7 linked regions of the Homo sapiens genome follow. The protein of the gene in region 1 interacts with the protein of each later gene in a biochemical or structural test. Each region holds a gene or a part of one and is shown in the gene's direction. Other genes may lie near its edges. The genes, in order: DLG3, SLC15A2, GRM5, SMCHD1, XKR7, CLDN3 and GOLT1A.

Region 1 (3,500 bases):
TTCTTTCCTGTTGTTAGCCTTGGGAGATGCATTTTGAAATACGATTTGGAAACCATCCAGGTCAATTTGATTCAGATGAAGAGGATGCTGCTGAAGGAAGTATGGCTTGTAGTACATAGGGAGGGACTTGGCAGACCAAGAGGGCTCTGGGGACAAGTACGAGAGGGCCAGGGGCTCAGGATTGGAGCTGTGCCTCCCAGTTGGTAGCCTGGATGTGGCAGGCCTCTGGTGGCCTGACTCAGTTGGCAGCTCAGTGTCTCGCTCCTGGAGCATTTGAGTTTTGTGCTGCATGTGACCTCTCAGTGGTGTGTTCTGAATTGGAGTCTCTTTCTTGTTGGCTTGCAGAGGGAGTGACATCCAACACCAGTGACAGCGAAAGCAGTTCCAGTAAGTGTGTGTCATTCCTTCCATGTCGTGTAGCTCCACTGTGTATCCCAGCCATCCTCATTCCAGTGTTGCACAGCTGCCATTGCTGCTCAGAGGCTGGTGCTTCTTTTAGCCATGTACACTTTGAGATCCTAGAAATGCTGTGGCCAGTTCATTCTCCTTATGGGTTGGGGTTCACCCCATGGATTAAAGGAGAGTATAAGCCCTATAGTGCTGGCCGGGACCTGACTTAAAAGCATCCCTGGCACTGGGAAGGGTAAACTGCCAAAGAGTAAATCCCTGCCATGGGTACTGTGGGCCATAGGTGCTGCCAGGTTTATAGATTTGCTCAGAGACCAAAAGAAAAATGGCTCCTCTAGGACACTGCCCTAAATCTGCCTTTCCAGGTCATTAGGACCTCTTTGCCTTTGGGGCCAGTTAAAGGATGAGGTAATTGCCAAGTTCTCCTTGGGAGATCCTGTGACCAGACCAGAGAAACCGTAATTCAAACCTCATGAACTTTGGGAGCACTGGTTTTTCAGGAGCTATGGTGGCTAGAAGCCTTGTAAAATCTGCCCAGGAATATTAGGCTCAGAAGAAGCCTTTTAGCAAGCATTGTGTGCCTTGATGCAAATATCACTGTTTTCCCTGGGACTGCCATCAGCCACTTTGGGACCTCCAGGCACCCAGCACCGAGTGGCTTGACGACTGTTTTAGGAAAACCTCAACATTGCTAGGCTCGACATGGGGCTCCACCAGGAAGAGACAGCAGGTTCAGCATTGCTCTTAAAGGGCACTGGGGACCTTAGCAGAGCCATGTGCCACTTTTCTGGATGCTGCTTCCAATGCAGGAGGTGGGTTGGTAGACCTTTAAAAGGGCAAAGTTAGGCTGCTTGGGGACCTGGGTGTGTGCCCTGACTCCCCTGCATGTTGATGAAGGGGACTCGGGCAAGCATCTCAACCAGTCAAAGTGTCCCTGTCATTCTTACCAGAGCAAGGGGGCTACTGCACACAGCTGACTTGTTACCTACAAGAAGAGTTCCTCACAAATTGGGGTGGTTTGGGGTGGAGGCTTCATGGCTTCTGGGCCTTGGCCCTTTGCCCAGTGATATTTCACTGAACAAGAGAACTGCTGACTCCTGTCTCAGAGCCAGTGAAGGGTTTCATGTGCTTTCTCACCAGCAGAAAACAGAAAGGATCACAGGTGGTGGCAAGGACCACCTGATAAGGCTGTGTCCTGGCAGGGGAGGGGTACGGGGAGTACTGTACAGAAGGAGGCAGATCATATGGTGCTAACCTATCTCTCTTTTTTGTTGCAGAAGGACAAGAGGATGCTATTTTGTCATATGAGCCAGTGACACGGCAAGAAAGTAAGCCTCCTCTGAGAGCCTTGTCTTCGTGCTGGTCTCCTGGTCGTGGGGCTCAATACAGTGGGTGGCTGTGGCAGCAGAGGGAGGGACCTGGAGGAGGAGGAAGGCTTGACTCATGGCACATCCAGCCCCTGGGCTCCTTCTTCTCTATGCTTCTTCCTAGTGTCATAGGGAAGGGGGTGCATCCAGTGTGCACTTCTCTCTGTGCCTTTGCCTGCTGCCAGGACACCTTCCAAAGGAGGGGGCAAATTTACAAGGAAAGTCTATTTCAGTAGATGTAGCCACTGCTAAAAGAGAGGTCCAGGTTCTTCCCTTCAGTGGCTGCTCTGCAAAAACCTTGCTCAGTTACTGGTGTCAGTGCAGAGATTTTTTCTGACTCTGTTAGAAGGGGAGCAGCTTCCGGTTTCAGACTTGCCTTGAACTTAGATATTCTCAAATTAAAGGCTCTTTGATGTCTTTCTGTTTAAAAGCCAGACAATGTCTGAGGATGCTTTACCCTGTCTGAGTCTCTGCTCCAGAGCCTCTGTGTTCTAGCCAGACTCAGGGGTAGGACAGGCTGTCTGGTGGGGGCCTCTGTTCACTGTCTCGATGCTCTCCCTCTCTAGTTCACTATGCAAGGCCTGTGATCATCCTGGGCCCAATGAAGGACCGAGTCAATGATGACCTGATCTCCGAATTTCCACATAAATTTGGATCCTGTGTGCCACGTAAGAGTCCAGGAAGGCCCAGAGGAGTGAGGCTTGGTGCCCTGGGAATTGTTGCTCTAATGTTTTATGGAAAAGGTCTGGGATCAGATTCTAGGGCTATTTGGGGACAGGGTACATTTGACACGCTGGAAAACAGTAGGTGGCAATATATTCCCCAAAAGCTGATGGGGTTGGAGAGATTAAGCCATCAGGCTTGGCTGCTCACTCTTGAGGGGAAGTTTCAGTGGTGATGGTTGAGAATGATTGGACAAATACGGAGGCCCAGCCAAAGTGGTGTTGATGTGACTCCATTAACAGTTTGTTAGGTTCACTGTCTCCTCTACCAAGTTTGGCACCCTCTGCCATGCTTTAGCTCAGGAAACCCCACCTTTCTAGTCCAGTTTAAGCTAAAGCAAATAGCCCCCTGTGTGAGACCTGGAGATTGGAAGAGAAGTAGGCCAGACAAACCGCTTCCCAACTGCTTGTTTTCTCCCACTTACTTGAAAAAAAAAATGGAGTGGCCCAGTGACCCACCCAGATGAGAATGGACCAGTCAGTATTTTTTGGTTTGGGGCGGATCACTGCCCCTGGGCCACAAAGCATTTCCTTTCTTCCTTCAGATACTACCCGGCCTCGACGTGATAATGAGGTGGATGGACAAGACTACCACTTTGTGGTGTCCCGAGAACAAATGGAGAAAGATATTCAGGACAACAAGTTCATCGAGGCGGGCCAATTTAATGATAACCTCTATGGGACCAGCATCCAGTCAGTGCGGGCAGTTGCAGAGAGGGTAAGTGTACAGGAGATGGCCTCAAAGGGGAGGCCAATGCTTATGCCAAGGTTCCACTTGGATCCTTATCCTTCCAACACAGGAGCTGCCCAACAGTGCTGCTGACCAAAGCCATAGCACATCTGCATACTCCCAGCGCCTTGACGAAGCTATCTGTCTCCTTCATACAACTCACCCCAGAGCATTACCCAACAGGGAATAGGGGGCCCTGGACAGATGTGGCCTTTTCTGGGTAATAGGAGCAAAAAGTAGGGCCTGTCTACTTCAGAGATCGAATTTCTTAGG
Region 2 (2,644 bases), on another chromosome or scaffold:
AAATGTCCATTGCGTGGCAGCTACCACAATATGCCCTGGTTACAGCTGGGGAGGTCATGTTCTCTGTCACAGGTCTTGAGTTTTCTTATTCTCAGGTAAGTTTTTGCAAATAGAAGGTAGAAATTGAGGCATTGCTTGAAGGACAATGAATTTTAATTCTAGCACTGACTTAAATAGGTATGTTATCTCTTTTGGCCTTGGGTACCTTATTTATGACCCTGAACATATATGACCTGAACATCTTAACTCCCCAGGTCATGACAGTACAGCATGGGAGTCTATGATTTTGGGGTTCTAGGAAAGAGATTAAAGATTAAAATGAAGAGCTGCAGAGTCAGACTTCCCGTGTTCAAATTTTGGCTGCATGACCTATTGTGTAACCTTGAGCAAGTAAATTACTATCTCTGTAATGCTGTCGCCCAGGCTGGAGTGCAGTGGCGCGATCTCAGCTCACTGCATTCCAGCCTGAGCGACAGAGCGAGACTCCATCTGCCTCCCCGGCTCAAGCGATTCTCCTGCCTCAGCCTCTTGAGTAGCTGGGATTATAGGCGCACACCACCATTCCTGGCTAATTTTTGTATTTTTAGTAGAGACAGGGTTTCACCATGTTGGCCAGGCTGATCTCTAACTCCTGACCTTGGATGATCTGCCCACCTTGGCCTCCCAAAGTGCTAGGATTACAGGCTTGAGCTACTGCGCCCAGTCTGTAATACTATTTTTTAAATGTATAAGAATACGAATAGAACTTATCTCTTAGGATTGTAATGAAGATTATATGACATAATGAGTTTAAATATATTCAGTTAGGAGCTTCATCTTATTCTTACTGTTTACATTATTAACACCCTCTGAATCAATGTGATAGCTGAACTTAATAAGAGAAGTTCTAACTTGGAAGCTTTTGTGGGAGAAGTTTCCTGGATGCATGGGGCATGAGGGCAGTGAAGGGGGTTTGTTTACTTTCAAACTTGTGTCATCCCCAGGCTCCCTCTAGCATGAAATCTGTGCTCCAGGCAGCTTGGCTATTGACAATTGCAGTTGGGAATATCATCGTGCTTGTTGTGGCACAGTTCAGTGGCCTGGTACAGGTATGGATCTGAGGGAAGCAGGATTCATTTCTACTCAAGTTTTTCCTCCAGCTTTCTCTTCTCCCTTTCCCCCATCTCTCTGCTTCCCACATTCCCCATTCAGTGCTGTGACATGAAATGGGTTAGATATACAGACTTTACCAGGAAAATAGACATATGTAAGTGGCAATAATGACTACAATATACCTATGTGAGGAGAGGCCAGTGAACCCAGTCTTTGTCCAGCAAAAGTCTGGTTAAACTGGTGATCCCAGGTCAGTCTGCTCCCCACTCCTCATCCTGTAAAGATCTCTTTAGTTTCAGGTTTCTCCATATTCTTCTCATATTTATTTCCCCCTGCAGTGGGCCGAATTCATTTTGTTTTCCTGCCTCCTGCTGGTGATCTGCCTGATCTTCTCCATCATGGGCTACTACTATGTTCCTGTAAAGACAGAGGATATGCGGGGTCCAGCAGATAAGCACATTCCTCACATCCAGGGGAACATGATCAAACTAGAGACCAAGAAGACAAAACTCTGATGACTCCCTAGATTCTGTCCTGACCCCAATTCCTGGCCCTGTCTTGAAGCATTTTTTTTCTTCTACTGGATTAGACAAGAGAGATAGCAGCATATCAGAGCTGATCTCCTCCACCTTTCTCCAATGACAGAAGTTCCAGGACTGGTTTTCCAGTACATCTTTAAACAAGGCCCCAGAGACTCTATGTCTGCCCGTCCATCAGTGAACTCATTAAAACTTGTGCAGTGTTGCTGGAGCTGGCCTGGTGTCTCCAAATGACCATGAAAATACACACGTATAATGGAGATCATTCTCTGTGGGTATGCAAAGTTATGGGAATTCCTTTATAGGTAACTGCCATTTAGGACTGATGGCCCTAATTTTTGAGGTGCTGATTTAGAGGCAAAATTGCAGAATAACAAAGAAATGGTATTTCAAGTTTTTTTTTTTATAAGCAATGTAATTATGCTATTCACAGGGGCCTCAAGAATTGGTATGTATGATGTGATCTGGTCCAGCCAGGGCCTGGCTTGTCAGCTCTCTAGGTTTGATATGACTTTAGTAAATTTGTCAATATAGATGGTAGGAAGCAGAATGCCATTTTATTAAAACACAGGAGAAGTTATATCTCTCTGATTATGATAGTATTTTATTTACTTATCCAAACCCTCCTTTCTCAGTATGGATAGATCATGGAAACCAGATTAGAGATAGTAAGCATTAGTAAACATTGTTCTGGAGAACAGGAACAGGTGTAAGTTGTAGAAATCCTGAAGAGCCAGTCATTCTTTTACAGAGTACATTCTTCTTAGCCTCTATGGCGCTGGTCTATGCCCTTCAGTGAACAGTTGTATAAACAATAATTATAATTTGCAACCTTGTCTTGTCAACCTTGCTGATCCAGCTTTTTCTTATTATTACACCTTGTCTTGCTTATTGCAGCAAATATTCAATAACAACAATGTTTCTATAAGTCCAACTTCCTTTATTAATGTTTCCATTTAGCCTCAAAAATATCAAAGTAGTTCCTTTTTGATGTTGTTTTCCTGATTTACTTT
Region 3 (2,921 bases), on another chromosome or scaffold:
GCAGCTATCCTCAGGTACCAAATGTTTTGATTTTTAAATAAGGATAGTAATAAATGGAGGAGGTGTCCTATAAATTTAAAGTTCAGTTGACCCAGCCTTATACTTAAGATAGCCTTATGAAAAATATGTGCTGTGAGGCAGAAGTATATTTTGGCAGAGAGAATAATAAATAAAACTTTTTCTTTTAGCTCAATATCCTTACTTTGGTAAGTATTTTTTTTTATTTCACATCTACTTAACAGAAAATAAACTGAGAAATAGAAGTCAGTCCATTGGCATAATTTATCATTCTTCACTTTAAAAAATTCTAATAAATATTCTGCTTGAGTTTTCTTTTCTGCTATTTGTTCTTACTTGCAACTTTAAGTCAAACCTCCCAATACAAAACATTAAAAGCTAACATTAATGTACTAAAGTATTAATTTAAAAGAAATCGAACCTCCCATGCTAGATTTGAAAATAACATCATCACAGCACCCTGATCCCAAATATTACACCGAGGCTTTTAAAATGTAAGTGAAATCTAGCTAAGTTTCATGGTTTCATTAAAAGCAAATGTCTGCCTCTATCTGAAAAACAAATGGAAATCTTTTGAGGTGTTAATACCCTTTGGATCCTCATCAAAAGGATGGCATTCACCTGAGGATTCCTATCTTGACTTCTTAGGTATTAAAAACCTTTCTTGATATGCTCTACATTTTAAAATTTGTTTTATAAAATCCTTATGTTGATTTTCATTTTATTCTCAAGTACAATACGTTTCACTCTAGACCAGTTGAAGAACATGTTTAAACTTTGTTCATGGTCAAATTCATTTTCTATTTTTTTAGTAACATATCTCTTAAAAAGCACACTACCTTATAAAAAACTTCATCAGAAATTAAATTTAATGCAAGTAAATTGCCATCTGATACTTCCACATGCTATCATAATCAACTGTAATAATAAAAATGATTTATCCAATTAGAAAAGGACAAGATATATTTTTCTCTGTATTTCTATAACTTTTGCCACTCCATTGAATACATTGTATGTTGGACATAAGATTATTAGTAATGCATTCTTGAGATCTTTTATTTTGGAATGATGCTAACTCTGTCTCTTTGCCAATTCTAATACCAGGTTCCAAGTAATAACTCTACAGTACAAAGAGAACTGAATATTCATTCTAGGGCTATAGGATATGAACTTCACAATTCATTTGGGTACATTCTCATTGAATTTCCTTCAAAACAATCTGTTCCTGGTGCCCAGTGATAATTCAGTCGGGACCAGCATGACTAAAAGGAAGGGGATATGCTAAGGCTCAGCAAAGTGACCCTAAATGAGAGATATGTCCCAGGATGGAAAGAAGAAGACGTGGTTTAACCAAGTTATACTGACTAATCTAAGCAGTCCACTCATCCTTCCATTTTGGGAAAGGAGTGGGGGCAGCCTAAGAAGAACATATCTGGATTGGGAAGAACCGTCTTTCTGGGCTAGGGATGGGGAACAGAAAGGGAGTATGGAAAGAAAAATTATAAGAGATTTGACTGAAGCAAGGAAAAAAAGCAAATCCCCAAACGTGCTAATCCTTGAAAGTAACTATCTTTCCCAAACTACTGCTGTTACCAGCAAGTGATCAGGAAGACTAGGAGCTATTTCTGACTGTAAATGAATTGTATAATAGCTCTGCTGCAGTTCTGTGACTTCCAAGCCAGGAATTAAATGCTCTTTTTAAGAATAACAAAAAACAAAAGCATTTCCTATGCTAGTCTCCCAGTAAAATGTACATGTTTTGGAGACTTCAAAGGTATTATGTGAGTTCACATTTAGCAACAGCTTATTAATAACCCTCAAGCTGTCAGAATCTCTATAGTTACCATTTACAATTTTATACTGTGAAAAAATACAGATCAGTGAAAGCATAAAGACAAGTCAGAATTCACTTTGAAGAGGGTCTGAGGCCTGGGAGAGTCTCTACTGTCTATTGAAGAATGAGGCATGTATAAAATAGTTGGTTGAATTTCACTGATCTTCCCAATGTGAACAAATATACTATGTATATTGTGTGTATTTCTAGAAATCAATGGCAGCTGCTGATGGTGTTGTAATTAGAAATCTATATAGATTATAGATGTTTTAGAAAGATGGTGCCAATCCTAAAAGATTTGTGTGGGCTAAAAGTGCTTGTACTTACTTTTTTCTGCACTTATAACTGATTTGGTTTTAAAATTGTGTGCGTGTATCTGTTCTTTCTCTGTTGTGGCAGCTTGTACTATTAAAATAATAGAGAATGTTAAATTATTTTGATGTGAACTGCAAATGATTTTTTTTCATAAAGTTTAACATTTTTATCAGCATTGTTTTGCTTTGTACTTGTATAAATATGTTTTATTTTAGCACTTCAAAATATACTTGCCTGTTTCTCAGTTGTCTAAATCATGTTGTACTTGGTGTTTGTGAAGCCAGTTACTTTTCAAAAAAATTAAAAAACCTATAATATGATTTTAAGATTATTCCCCTCAAATGTTTAGAATGTTGTCTTAATAGTGTTTTCTGAGATGAAAAGAGCCATGATACTAATTAATCTTGAATACTGGATGATCTATACATTTGAATTATGGGGTTTACAAAGTAAGCAGTGGACTGTATAGATTTAAATGAAAATATAAACCAACCACAAACCAACCAGAGATGTTGTCCCCAAACACATCTACAAACAACTGTTACATAAAGAAGTACTTAAAAAAATATATAGGAAATATGCATTGTTTATGCATCTAGACATACAAATTATAGAAATAGTTTCATAATTATATGTGTTGATAGAGGTAACATCACACAGATAAAATAGATTATTTGTGTGTGTATAGATGTGTGTTTACAAACATACATATTTATATAGACATTTGACTTTTGAGTCCATCTGCATGTGTCTC
Region 4 (3,396 bases), on another chromosome or scaffold:
ATTATGAATATTAAATGTTTTATTTTGCTTGTCTTTGTTACTTTTCTGTAATAAGCATTATAATTCCTGTTCTTAAAATAATAAGTTCATTTAAGGAAAAGGGGGTGAAAGGAAAAATCTGCAGAATTTAGGTCTGAGATAATACCATTTCAAAGCACTGTGATACAAATTACTTATATATGTTATATACTGTGTGTGTGTTAACTACTTTTATTTGGGGGCTTGTTTTGCATACATGTGAAGGAAATGATTATATATAAGGATTTAATTAAATCTGTTTATACCAAGAATTATATTTAAAAGAATATGGTTTCATTGGATATTTAAGCATTCAGGTGTGATGAGGGAATTCAGGGAAAGGAAACCTTTGGTACATAAAACTTTTTTTTCTTTCCCCTTTGACCAGGATTATAACCAAAACAGATGTATGAGAGGTGACAGAGAGAAGAGGCCATTGGTCTCAGTAAGAATGCCCTGCTTTCTGCATCTCTGTTTCAGAAGACCAAGAGGGTGACTTACCAGACTGAGTATTTCTGGGGACAATACAAGTACCTGGGCATGAATTTCCATTTCGATTCAGATGGGACTGGAAACAACCATTCAATTTTATGAATCTTACTGGACATTATGGATTTACTGGAATTATTCCAGACATTATGCCCTTTGGTTGTCACTACCTTGCAAATGTGTAAGAGGAAAATGTGCTAATGTGGCAGTGACTGTAAAACTGGCACATGGCATTTATTAATCCTGAAGAAAAGTACATGTACTATTTTTCAGTATAAATATAATGAACATGTCAGAACTATTTCTTGAAAACCTTTTTATTACTTTTGCGTGAATTTATTTAACAAAGATGTTTTGTCTTTTGTGTAAGGGAGGTTCTAGAGGCTAGATGTTTAATTGTAAATATGTGAGGAAACTCAATGCAGAATTCAGGATAAAAATTTTAAAAGCACAGGTATTTGGGAATTGAAATGTTAAGATACCCAGAACAACATTAAATCAATGAGTGAACTTGTGACAGTGGTAGCATTTCAAATTTCAAAAGACTTATCCTGTGTGTGTGTGTGTGTGTATATATATATATATATATAAATATATATATATAAAATATTCAGCAGCACCAAGTTTTATAACTATTGTTTGTTTGACTTTATTAATACTAGAATATGTAGTCTCAGCCTTAATTTTACATTTACATTATTTTGTAATTTTTTATTACTATTTTTAAGGGGTTAAAGAGAACATACATTCTCACATTAGTGTACTTTCTGGTAGAAAGTTGCTGCAAAAACATTTGAAATGTATATTAACCTAATGTATGTCATATATATGTCTTTGTGTAAGTTCAAGACTATTGATCTGTGAAGTTATTTTGTAAGGACATACATTTGGTAAGTAAGTTTGTGTCCCAGGAAATGTATGTGTTTTTAAACCCTTTCTAAATATGCAGGCCATTAATAAATAAGATTGTTTCTTCCCTACTGAATAGATAAGTGTTTTTCTTTTTTAAAATTGGAAGCTTCATAAAAGTTATCTTGTTAAAAAACGATGATGATGTTAACCTATCTATCTTTATAATTGGAAATTATTTAAACTGTTTGTTGTTACAGAAGAAACAAAATGGTAATTACAGAATTAGCTGTGGGGAAGATTGGCTCCCATGGTACTACAGGTTGAGTATCCCTTATTCAAAATGGTTGGGACCTGAAGTGTTTTGGATTTTGGTTTTTTGTGGGGTTTTTAAATTATTATTTTGGAATATTTGCATTATATTTACCAATTTAGCATCCCTAATCCAAAAATCTTTCATTAGAAATTGGAAATGCTTCAATGAGCATTTCCCTTATGTGTCATATCTGCGCTCAAATGTTTTGAATTTTGGAACATTTCTTGTTTCTGACTTTTAGATTAGGGATACTCACCCCGTACCAATATTTGGAGTCCTTAGACATTAGATTATATGAAAATGATTGATTGATAGGTAAGAAAGGTTAAAGAGAAATGACTTTTTAGGAACTAGACTTGAACGTATAATTAATATGTGGAACTAGTTTGCTTTTATAATTCATTGTATCAAGAAGGAGTCATGTTTTAAATCCAAGGCATTGAGACTATCTAGAAGCAAAAAAGTTGGTTTTAAAAATTCTTTTTATTAGAAGTGTGTTTAAAAACATGTCTTTTTTTCCCTTGAGCGACAGTGGCCTCACTACATTGCCCAGGCTAGTCTTGAACTCCTGGGTTCAAGCAGTCTTCCTGCCTTGGCCTCCTAAGTAGCAGGGATTACAGGCATGCACCCACATGCCAATTTTTATTGCTTAAAATGGCGAGTTCTATGGATATTATCTAGCCCCAAGCCCATATCTGTACACTTTTGTTCATTTTATAATACCAGAAAGAATGTTCTATCAGTAAAAGAAGGTTTTTAAGTATGAATCTCCATTTTTGTGGAGTTTTTCTACCCTGTAAAAATTAACTTTGTGGTTCCCAGTAATTACAGTAAGGAGTTTTTCTATATTTTCACAGTTGGATTTATCTAAGGATATTTCTCAGCATATTAAGGAATCCTTTTCTACATTTGAGCAAATACTGAGGTTCATGTTGTACCAAATAATAATAAATTGCTTTTGTGTTTAATATGTAACACGTAAGAACAATTGAAATTTTCTTCTAAGATTTAATACTAGTCTTTTAGTATAAAGGAATGTAACTGGAGAAAAAAATTAATGCTACAGCCATTTATCCTGTGTTATGTGTTATATAATCTGAAATTTGTCACAATGTTACAATCAGGAAGTTTTTTTTCTGGTTTCTTCTTCCAAAGGAAAATAATAGCCTACTTGTATTTTGAAGTAACTGAAATAAAACTCTCTCCAAGCCTTTTTGCACATTACGTTCATCAGTTTTCATGTGTACATTTGGCCAGGCCTATGGTAAAAATAGGCTCAATTTACTTAACATTTTTATAGGGTTTTTGGTATAAGATTCTTTACAGAGACTAAAATTTGTTGCATATATAACATTCAGATTATTTTAAGTGAAATTGGCTCCTATTGTTAAATATTAGTGCTAAGGAAAGTTCAGTCTTCTAAACTGTCTATACTTTGGCTCTGTGACTTGATTACTTTATAGTCATTATGAAATTGATGGGGTTAATTCCATTGTATTTTTAGTATAGAATTTTCAAATAATACATTTTAGTAAAAAAATTGAATGTTTAATTTTCATACTGTGAAACTGGTGAAAAATATTAAAAACAACCATTTAAAACTTCTGGAAATGGTCCTGAGGACAAATGGCAATGAAGAAACATCTATTCAAGAACATTTACAAAAATTCAGTAAGGAAGATGAGAATCTGTGGTAGTTTGAACCAAGACTGACTACTCACTTC
Region 5 (3,500 bases), on another chromosome or scaffold:
GAGGGGCAGGGAGTTGAACTATGTGGGTGAGGACGGGAACAGTGTGTATTGTGGGGAAAAGGCTGGATTCGGGGGTGGTCTGGTCAGGAGGCTGACATCTTTATCCTAGTTTGTAACTATAGTTTGCTGGGTGACCTTGGGCAAGGCTCTTTCCATCTTTGGGTCTCGGTTTCCCTGTGTGTGAAATGAGATTCAATGTGATGACCTTAAGAGTTTCCCATTCCTGAAATTCTGACTCTGGGTCTATTGCCAAAGCAAAAGCCTCTGGGCCCTTGCCCCCAAAATCTTTGGATTCTAAAATGGCTAAGGGCCTGGATAAATGGAGGGAAAACCCAGAGAAGGTATAGAGAAGCTGCAGGGGCTGGCATTCCTAGAAATTAAGCAATGTTGGCCCAGCACATTTGCTTACCACGTGAGATGTTCCCACAGATGTTCTGAGTGGTGGGGCCTGGGGTAATGAAGAGGGAGATGTGTGATTGAGTCCTCCAGAATCACACCTGGGAGGCTAGGCAGTCACTCACCTCCTGATCCCATTTCCTCAATTCTGAATAAAATAATTATAATCATGAAGATATTTTTCAACCTCTTAGACTTGTAAAATCCTGAATTAAAAATTCAAATGCTTTGAGGACCCAGGCAGGTAACAGACCATAAGACCATAAGATACAAGGGGTGTCAGACAAGAGGACATTCAGGGGCAAGTAGTGTCCGAGGAAAAGGGAAGCTCCAGCTGATCATGCCATGAGAAATCGTGGACCCAGTCTTGATTTCTCAAGAGAAATGGGAAATTGGGATTTTTCCGTGAACTCTCCAAAATTTAACTACTAATTAAAATGTTTAAAAATAGTGTCAACCAAAGGAAACATATTTATTAGCCTGTCTTCTTTGTAACCTCTGGTTTAGCTCTTCAAATTGATAAGGTCTTTTCACACAGAAGATTTTATTACTAATTTAAACATAAAATGAAGCTCTGAAGAGAGAGAGGAGGAGAAAGCATACACAGACACTGCACACCTACCGTGTCCCCACAGGCCCTGTGTGAGTGTTTCAGGCATGTGATCTCATGTTACTCTGAAACCCTCCCCCCTGGTGACTATTGATATACCCATTTATCAGATAAGGAACCTTGTCCAAAAGTCACCCACTGAGGAAGTGAGGAAAGGTGATCAGTCCCAAACCTAGCTCTATCTTTTACACCACACACTGGCTACTTTGGGACATGCCAGAACAATATCTTTGTGCACAGAGAGATTGAACTCTGAGGGAACAGCAAACAGATCCTCTGGCGGGGCACGAAGCTGGCTGTGGCCTGGACACCAACCTGCAACTTCATCCCTCCCTTCCCTTTAAACTCTCTGAGCTGTTAAACTGCCCAGGGTTCTTAAGCTAATTAAAGTCCTAACCCTGTCCCCTCTGACCCTGTAGGCAGCAGAGCAGTAAGCCATGAATCCTGCTTTTCCTAATCTTGAGCTCAGTGGGCCCCAGCTTCACCCAGATAAGCATGGTTTGCTAAGCCAATTAGTGGGAGACGATCTGACATGGGATTCCTGCCAGGCTTTCGGGATCTGGGAACCCCAAAATGGGGAGAAAATTAGGCAATTGGGATTTAGGGGCCCTCCCTCTAATGCCCTCTCTATGCATAGGCCCAGACACTGCACTCTATGTCACCTAAGAAGCCCTGCATGACAGAGAAGTTCTGGAATGAGTTAGTGACCTATTGGAAGGAAATGTCAGGCTCTGGATTTCCCCTCTGGGAAACTACATTCTTGGCATAACGGTTGAGAGGGTTGAGAGCACGGACTCTAGATTCAAGTGTCCTCAGTTTAAATCCAGACTTTACTACTTCTTATATGTGACCTTGACAAGGCAAATAATCTCTCATCCGTTGTAAACTAGGGACCAAAATTGTACCCACCCGCCTCTTAGGTTGTTTCAAGGTTTAATGAGATAATGTGTAAGGGTTCAGCAAAGGGCTCATTCCATCGTTAAATGCTCAGAAACTGCTGGCAATGATTAGTGCATTAGCTTGGGCTTTGCTCCCTGTGGAACAAAGCTTTGTTCACGGAGCACATGGCAGGACAGCAAGGGGGTCCTGAAGTCCCTTGAAGCCATAATGACATGGCAGTCATTCATTTAATCTGCAGTCATTCATTCAGCAGACATTTATTAAGCACCTGCTGTATACCAGGCACTGTTCTAAGTGCTGGGAATAGAGTGGTGAACAAGACAAAGTCCTTGCCCTCTTGGAGCTCAATAGCCTAATGAAGGAACCAATAAGAAAATAAACTATGATATATATTATATGGGATATATAATACCTGGGCCAGATCGTGATAAGTGCTATGGGGAAAAAAATGAAACAGGGCAGGGAGCTACTGGAGTGCCAGGGAGAGGTGTGGCTCTTTGAGATAGGGTGGTCAGGGTGGACCTCTCCAAGGAGGTGGCATGTGGGCAAAGGGCTGCACGAGGTGAGGACAAGCTGTGTAGAGGTCTTGGGGAGGGTTTTGCAGGCAAAGGAAAAGGGAAGGGCAAGGAGAAGGCCTGTGTGGCAGAAATAGAGTGAGGGGAGCATGTTTGGAGATGCTGGTGGACAGATTGGCAGGGGCGAGGTCATGCAGGGCCTCAGAGGCCATGGCAAGGACTAGGGCTTTTACTCTTCATGACACGGGGAGCCCAGGATAATTTGGCCAGAGAAGGAACATGATCTTGACTTGTGTTTTGCAATGTCCACTCTGGCTGCTGGGTGGGGAATAGACTGGAGGGGCCGGGCACAGTGGCTCACGCTTGTAATCCCAGCACTTTGGGAGGCCGAGGCAGGCGGATCACGAGGTCAAGAGATCGAGACCATCCTGGCCAACATGGTGAAAGCCGGTCTCTACTAAAAATACAAAAATTAGCTGGGCATGGTGGTGCGCACCTGTAATCCCAGCTACTCGGGAGGCGGAGGCAGGAGAATCGCTTGAACCTGGCAGGTGGAGGTTGCAGTGAGCCGAGAGTGAGCCACTGCACTCCAGCCTGGGTGACAGAGCAAGACTCCATCTCAAGAGAAAAAGCATAAAAAAGAGAGAGAATAGACTGGAGGGAGGCAGAGTAAGCCTGGAGATGCATGAGGAGGCTGCTACAAAGATGCAGGAGAGAGACAATGGAGACTGGATCAAACTGTAGCAACAGGGATGGGGGTCTGCTTCAGGCTGAGCTAATGCGACCTCTTTCCTTCTTTGGTCCTCAGTCTCTCCACTGGGGCCAGAGTTAATGGTTCAGCATCCACTCTCTGGAATCAGCCATATCCTGCACCTGCCACTTTCTGTGATTTGGGGCAAGTGGCATGACTTGTCTGTGCCTTGATTTTCTCATCTGCTAAATGGACACTCTAATAATAGCACCTATCGCATGGTGCTTGAGGTAGTAGAAAATTAAATAATGTTTAGTGTTCAGCACAGTGCCTGGAACATAGGAAGTTCTCAACAATGATAATTAGACATTGTTATTTGTAAAACAGG
Region 6 (3,045 bases), on another chromosome or scaffold:
GTTAGGAACAGCCCAGGCTGAACCTCCAAGGCCAAATCTGAAGGGCTCTGAGCTTGGTGAAGAAGGGGGAACGATCGTCCAGGTGTGACAGCCAGGGCTTTGAGTGTAGCATTTCTGACTTCCCAACCTTTTTTTTTTTTTTTTTTTTTTTTTTTAAACAGGGTCTGCTCTGATGCCCAGGCTGGAGTGCAGTGGTGCGATCATAGCTCACTGCAGCCTCGAACTCCTGGGCTCAAGTAATTTCCTGCCTGAGCCTCCGGAGTAGTTGGGACTATAGGCACACGCCACCACACCTGGCTAGTTTTTTAATTTTTTGTAGAGACGGGGTCTCACTATTTTGCCCAGGCTGGTGTCGAACTCCTGGTCTCAAGCAATCCTCCCTTCTCAGCCTCCCAAAGTGCGAGGATTACAGGAGTCAGCCACCACGGTGCTCGGTCCTGCCCGATTTCCCACTTTTGCGGAGATCGAACCTCTTTCACCACCATTTCATTAAGGTGGGCCTCAGCCCTGACTCAGGCTCAAAGGGAGGGAGGACAGGGCTCGGAGAGGGGAGGGGACTCAATGGGAGGAGGGGGACTTCTGGGAGGGGAGAGCAGCTTAGCTAAAGGCATGCAGGCTCACGGCCAGCGATGGGAACTGGAGGGAGAGCTGGAGAGGAATTTGAGCTTAGTTAGGCTTAAGGGCATCTTTTGGGTACCTTTGCGCAGGCAGTCCCTGGCTTCTGGGCCCAGCAATTCCTGGGCTGGACAACCCCACCGCCCGGACTCAGGCTGAGCCTGTGCGACGTGTGTACGGGAGGGGCAGAGCAGCAGGTGCGCGGCTCCTGCAAACAGCCGCGGCCACGCCCACCCTGGTCCTCCCCGCCCCGCCGTTCCGGGGTAATTGGCAGCGCCCCCATCCCCACGCGGCACGTGCCAAAAGCGCCCAAAGTGGTGAGGAGAGAGAAGCCGTGTCAAATTCTTTGGGATTTGCACCCCAAGCCCCTGACGCATCCCGTCCTCGGTTTTGCCCCGGAGAATTCATTCCCGAGCAGAGAGGGACAAGGACCGAGGGGCGGGGGCTGGGTCAGGTCCCGCCCTTCCTTGGCAACCCCCCTACCCCGGCGTTGTGGGCCGCGCAGGGCCAAGTCCTTCCTCCCAGGACGCTCGGTGAAGGTGGGAGGCAGGGGCCACGTCACTGTCCTTAGGCCCTGGAGAGCGCGGCTCCGCCCCTACCGCCCCCACCGGAGCGCTGGGCACTTAGCTAAGACGCACCGGCCCCAGCCCAGGGCCAGCCCAGTCGCCGCCGCCCGCCCACAAAGCCACAGGCAGGTGCAGGCGCAGCCGCGGCGAGAGCGTATGGAGCCGAGCCGTTAGCGCGCGCCGTCGGTGAGTCAGTCCGTCCGTCCGTCCGTCCGTCGGGGCGCCGCAGCTCCCGCCAGGCCCAGCGGCCCCGGCCCCTCGTCTCCCCGCACCCGGAGCCACCCGGTGGAGCGGGCCTTGCCGCGGCAGCCATGTCCATGGGCCTGGAGATCACGGGCACCGCGCTGGCCGTGCTGGGCTGGCTGGGCACCATCGTGTGCTGCGCGTTGCCCATGTGGCGCGTGTCGGCCTTCATCGGCAGCAACATCATCACGTCGCAGAACATCTGGGAGGGCCTGTGGATGAACTGCGTGGTGCAGAGCACCGGCCAGATGCAGTGCAAGGTGTACGACTCGCTGCTGGCACTGCCACAGGACCTTCAGGCGGCCCGCGCCCTCATCGTGGTGGCCATCCTGCTGGCCGCCTTCGGGCTGCTAGTGGCGCTGGTGGGCGCCCAGTGCACCAACTGCGTGCAGGACGACACGGCCAAGGCCAAGATCACCATCGTGGCAGGCGTGCTGTTCCTTCTCGCCGCCCTGCTCACCCTCGTGCCGGTGTCCTGGTCGGCCAACACCATTATCCGGGACTTCTACAACCCCGTGGTGCCCGAGGCGCAGAAGCGCGAGATGGGCGCGGGCCTGTACGTGGGCTGGGCGGCCGCGGCGCTGCAGCTGCTGGGGGGCGCGCTGCTCTGCTGCTCGTGTCCCCCACGCGAGAAGAAGTACACGGCCACCAAGGTCGTCTACTCCGCGCCGCGCTCCACCGGCCCGGGAGCCAGCCTGGGCACAGGCTACGACCGCAAGGACTACGTCTAAGGGACAGACGCAGGGAGACCCCACCACCACCACCACCACCAACACCACCACCACCACCGCGAGCTGGAGCGCGCACCAGGCCATCCAGCGTGCAGCCTTGCCTCGGAGGCCAGCCCACCCCCAGAAGCCAGGAAGCCCCCGCGCTGGACTGGGGCAGCTTCCCCAGCAGCCACGGCTTTGCGGGCCGGGCAGTCGACTTCGGGGCCCAGGGACCAACCTGCATGGACTGTGAAACCTCACCCTTCTGGAGCACGGGGCCTGGGTGACCGCCAATACTTGACCACCCCGTCGAGCCCCATCGGGCCGCTGCCCCCATGCTCGCGCTGGGCAGGGACCGGCAGCCCTGGAAGGGGCACTTGATATTTTTCAATAAAAGCCTTTCGTTTTGCACTCGCTGGAGCCTCCTTGTTCCCAGCGCCTCCACCTCCCTGCAGAGCTCCCCCTCGGGGCGGCCTTGGCTGGATCTCGCTCTCCCGGATGGAGCTTAGAGGGAAGATGGGGTTGTAAGCTGAGCTTGGTGATGGCGGGGTGGTCACTTGCCCACTCCCTGGGGATTCGGAAGACAGCCTGTGAGGCCAAAGCCAGCGCCCAATCTAGGAAGCAGGCATGAGCACTTTCCGCACGCCATGGCTGGGGATGGGAGGGGAAGGTGGCAGAGATGTGCCCCTGGGTCTGTGCTGGGAGCCCGGACCCCGCACAATACCCGACACATTCGGAATCTCCCGTGCGCCTTGTGAAAGAGCGCATTCCGTACTGCCATTTCCTATTGGAAAAACGAAAACAAAAAGACCTATTGTTTGGATAAAACACGCCACCAAAAGTAAAACCGGGCCAAATCTTCTCACCTGGGGGAGAGATGAGAAAGGGTCCCCATCTCCTTCCTGGGACCC
Region 7 (3,163 bases), on another chromosome or scaffold:
GGCTTCTGCAATCATGGAAAGGTGTGGGGCTCAGGAATCCCCAGGTTCTCACAGGAGCCCCCGTTTGCTGAAGGCAGCCCTGAAACCCCCTGATTAGCCTGAATGGCCTAGGCCTCAGAGACTTTGGGAAGTGTGGCTTTAAAGTTTCTCATGCATACCTGCCATCTATTTATTCCATATTCAAATATGTCATTTTATGGCTGGGTGCAGTGGCTCACACCTATAATCCCAGCACTTTGGGAGGCCGAGGCAGGCGGATCACTTGAGGTCAGGAGTTCGAGAACAGACTAGCCAACATAGTGAAACCCTGTTTCTACTAAAAATACAAAAAAAAATTAGCCAGGCTTGGTGGCAAGTGCCTGTAATCCCAGCTACTCGGGAGGCTGAGACACAAGAATTGCTTAAACGCAGGGGGCGAAGGTTGCAGTGAGACAAGATCACACCACTGCCTCCAGCCTGGGTGACAGACCGAGACTCTCTCTCTCAAAAAAAAAAAAACAAAAACATATATATATATATATATATACACATATATGTCATTTTCAAACAGTCGCTTATTCAAATTGTCAAATATATAATAAGCACCTACTGCATGCCAAATACAGGGCCAGGTGTGAGGATGTGGCACTGAATGAGGAGAAAGTTCCTAAGGAATTTACAATTTAGTAGGGAAGACCCATAAATAAATTCTGACAACAGTTAGCATTTATGGAGGGCTTAGAAAGTGGAGTGGGACAGCAGCAAATTCAATAGTTCAAACTGAAAGTCAGCCTTGACAAAGACACTGTGCAGTAACACAGGAGGCAAACAAATTACAGCTATCAGGGACCTCAGAGTGCAGTGAAACCTTGGAAAATTGAGGCCCACGGTAAGGAAGTGGCTCAGCCAGAATCCATATTTCAAATCTCCCTTCCCATCCGCCACACACCGGGATCCCTTCCCATGCCAGCCTTGGCACCTCCAAGCCCTGTGAGGGGTCACGCATGTGTCTGCAGTCAGGCCTTGGCAGGGTATCTTTGATGAGAGCAGGGTTGCCAAAGGCAGGGGTGGCTGTGTGCCTGGGGGAGCCAGGGCACCAGGGAGTGTAACGGTGAGCATGGCTTCCAACAGCCCCCGACGCCCAGGGCCCAGGACACCCGGGGCAGGTGGATCTCAGGAAGAGAAGAAAGCTTTAGGCCAGAAGAGTCATAATCATGAGAGTAACAATAATAAAAATAAGCACTTCCTGAGCATTTCTTTGTACGTGGCCTTATGATGTAGATACTGTTATTGTTAGCCACATTTTATGGCTGGAAATTGAGATTCAGAGAAGTTAAGGAATTTGCCCAAGTGTATATGGTGCCAGTAAGTGGTAGAGCCAAGAAGTGAACCCAAGGAGTGTGACCCTGGGGCCTTCATTCTTAATCATGTCACTCGACTGTCTCTCGGAACACAGGAGTGCAGAATCAAGCCTGTCCCTGGTGTGTGGAAGCCAGAGCTTGAACCTTTCAGTGGACCTCAGCCTCGTGCCCTCTATCCTCTCTTCCTGGGCCATCACTGACTCCTCCCTTCTCCCCTCTGCTCCTAGGGGCTTTTTCCCTGTCGCCTTCGGCTTCCTGGGCAATGTCTGCAACATCCCCTTCCTGGGTGCGGTAAGCAGATGATGCCTGCAGCCCTGCGGGCGTACCCTGGGGAGTGAGGGGGAGCACACGGAGGGGAGCTGGTAAAACTGCTGCCCCAGGGGCAGTGGCCTCTCCCCTGTCTCCCCTCAGACCCCCTAGCCCAGGTTTGGTGCTTTAGGCTCCTCTTCCCCCCGCACCTTCTCCATTTGACAAGAGCCCATGAGGAGAGGGGATCCAGACGCAGTTGTAGCTGAGTGTGGCTGTAGAGGCAGGTAGCTATGAATAGCTTCCTGTTTACAGCCAAAGAAATGAAGACGCAGAGACTCTAGGTGACTCAGCCAGGACATGCCTGAGATTTCTGGGGATCTGGCTAAGTGCGGGCCCCAGGCATGGAGAGAATGTATGACAGCTGATGACAGCAGGAAAAGCTGTCCTGCAGGTGGCAGATTTTGTCCTCTCCTGGGGATAGGCACAGCCACTGGTATCCAGCCCCTGCCCCTCCTTATCCCTTTCTCTGAAGCACCTGGCAGAATGTGAGCTCTCTGAGGAGCCCAGGGAGACCCTACAGCCAGCACCCCACCACAACCGCCAGCTGGACACAGCCCCTACAGCCCCTCTCGTATCTGCGCCTGGCACAGCTCCTGGCTCTCAAGGCCAGCTCTGTAATAACTAGATATTGCATCTGCTCTCTACCCTTTGTGTGGAGTAATGATTCTTGGCTCCCACAGCTGTTCCGGAGACTTCAAGGCACTAGCTCGATGGTCTGAAAAACAGAGATGAGCTCCTTGAACTTGGATCATTGGTTGAGGGGGCTAGAGGGAGAATGGGAACCACCCCCTCAGTCCCCTGCACTGACTCACTCCCCGACATATCCGGACCTCCCCAAGTCCAGAAGGAAGGAATGGAGCTGAGCAACTGACGTCAAATCCCCAAGTCGACTCAAGAGGCTGCCAGGAAGCAGAGATGCAGACCCCAAGGAGACTGGGCTGGGGCTGGTATCACACCCTCACTCTATATTTATGGGAGGAAAAGTGAAGATTAAATTCCCAAGTTGTGCGTGTGTCTAAGGCTCAGAGTTGGCGTCTTTGGCCGGGCGCGGTGGCTCACACCTATAATCCCAGCACTTTGGGAGGCTGAGGTGGGCAGATCACCTGAGGTCAGAACTTCGAGACCAGCCTGGCCAACATGGTGAAACCCCGTCTCTACTAAAAATACAAAAATTAGCGGGGCGTGGTGGCAGGTGCCTGTAGTTCCAGCTACTCAAAAGGCTGAGGCAGGAGGATCGCTTGAACCCAGGAGGCGGAGGTTGCAGTGAGCTGAGATCGCACCACTGGATTCCAGCCTGGGTGACAAAGCCAGACTCCGTCTCAAAAAAAAAAAAGTTAGCGTCTTCAGCCCATTAAGACCACCTCCTGCTTCAGGACAGGCCAACGTACACATCATCCCCACAGCGAAGTTTTGGTCTATGAGGGTCAGTGCTGTCCTCATAGGCTATCATTTCTGTCCTGGTGTTTAACAGCCCTAATGGGTGTGATAATAATATGTTTGCAATCCCCTGTTAA

What was found.
Region 2: the proteins of DLG3 (region 1) and SLC15A2 interact in a test that uses a peptide from one of them, tested with the Homo sapiens proteins (one large-scale study listed by IntAct).
Region 3: the proteins of DLG3 (region 1) and GRM5 interact in a test that uses a peptide from one of them, tested with the Homo sapiens proteins (one large-scale study listed by IntAct).
Region 4: the proteins of DLG3 (region 1) and SMCHD1 interact in a test that uses a peptide from one of them, tested with the Homo sapiens proteins (one large-scale study listed by IntAct).
Region 5: the proteins of DLG3 (region 1) and XKR7 interact in a test that uses a peptide from one of them, tested with the Homo sapiens proteins (one large-scale study listed by IntAct).
Region 6: the proteins of DLG3 (region 1) and CLDN3 interact in a test that uses a peptide from one of them, tested with the Homo sapiens proteins (one large-scale study listed by IntAct).
Region 7: the proteins of DLG3 (region 1) and GOLT1A interact in a test that uses a peptide from one of them, tested with the Homo sapiens proteins (one large-scale study listed by IntAct).

Annotation. Positions count from the first base shown.
Region 1 is NC_000023.11:70,496,835-70,500,334, forward strand, and holds part of DLG3 (disks large homolog 3), read left to right. Parts: intron 1-345; coding exon of another isoform or gene 346-387; intron 388-1,685; coding exon 1,686-1,736; intron 1,737-2,341; coding exon 2,342-2,443; intron 2,444-3,042; coding exon 3,043-3,215; intron 3,216-3,500. UniProt on the Homo sapiens protein: Required for learning most likely through its role in synaptic plasticity following NMDA receptor signaling.
Region 2 is NC_000003.12:121,939,401-121,942,044, forward strand, and holds part of SLC15A2 (solute carrier family 15 member 2), read left to right. Parts: coding exon 1-95; intron 96-983; coding exon 984-1,088; intron 1,089-1,430; coding exon 1,431-1,607; 3' UTR 1,608-2,644. UniProt on the Homo sapiens protein: Proton-coupled amino-acid transporter that transports oligopeptides of 2 to 4 amino acids with a preference for dipeptides. Transports neutral and anionic dipeptides with a proton to peptide stoichiometry of 2:1 or 3:1.
Region 3 is NC_000011.10:88,504,142-88,507,062, reverse strand, and holds the end of GRM5 (metabotropic glutamate receptor 5 isoform a precursor), read left to right. Parts: 3' UTR 1-2,421; downstream 2,422-2,921. UniProt on the Homo sapiens protein: G-protein coupled receptor for glutamate. Ligand binding causes a conformation change that triggers signaling via guanine nucleotide-binding proteins (G proteins) and modulates the activity of down-stream effectors.
Region 4 is NC_000018.10:2,802,122-2,805,517, forward strand, and holds the end of SMCHD1 (structural maintenance of chromosomes flexible hinge domain-containing protein 1), read left to right. Parts: intron 1-406; coding exon 407-431; coding exon of another isoform or gene 432-514; 3' UTR 515-2,896; downstream 2,897-3,396. UniProt on the Homo sapiens protein: Non-canonical member of the structural maintenance of chromosomes (SMC) protein family that plays a key role in epigenetic silencing by regulating chromatin architecture.
Region 5 is NC_000020.11:31,971,151-31,974,650, forward strand, and holds part of XKR7 (XK-related protein 7), read left to right. Parts: intron 1-3,500.
Region 6 is NC_000007.14:73,768,497-73,771,541, reverse strand, and holds CLDN3 (claudin-3), read left to right. Parts: upstream 1-1,271; 5' UTR 1,272-1,492; coding exon 1,493-2,155; 3' UTR 2,156-2,545; downstream 2,546-3,045. UniProt on the Homo sapiens protein: Barrier-forming claudin. Plays a major role in tight junction-specific obliteration of the intercellular space, through calcium-independent cell-adhesion activity.
Region 7 is NC_000001.11:204,197,663-204,200,825, reverse strand, and holds the end of GOLT1A (vesicle transport protein GOT1A), read left to right. Parts: intron 1-1,567; coding exon 1,568-1,631; intron 1,632-2,329; coding exon 2,330-2,368; 3' UTR 2,369-2,487; coding exon of another isoform or gene 2,488-2,520; 3' UTR 2,521-2,663; downstream 2,664-3,163. UniProt on the Homo sapiens protein: May be involved in fusion of ER-derived transport vesicles with the Golgi complex.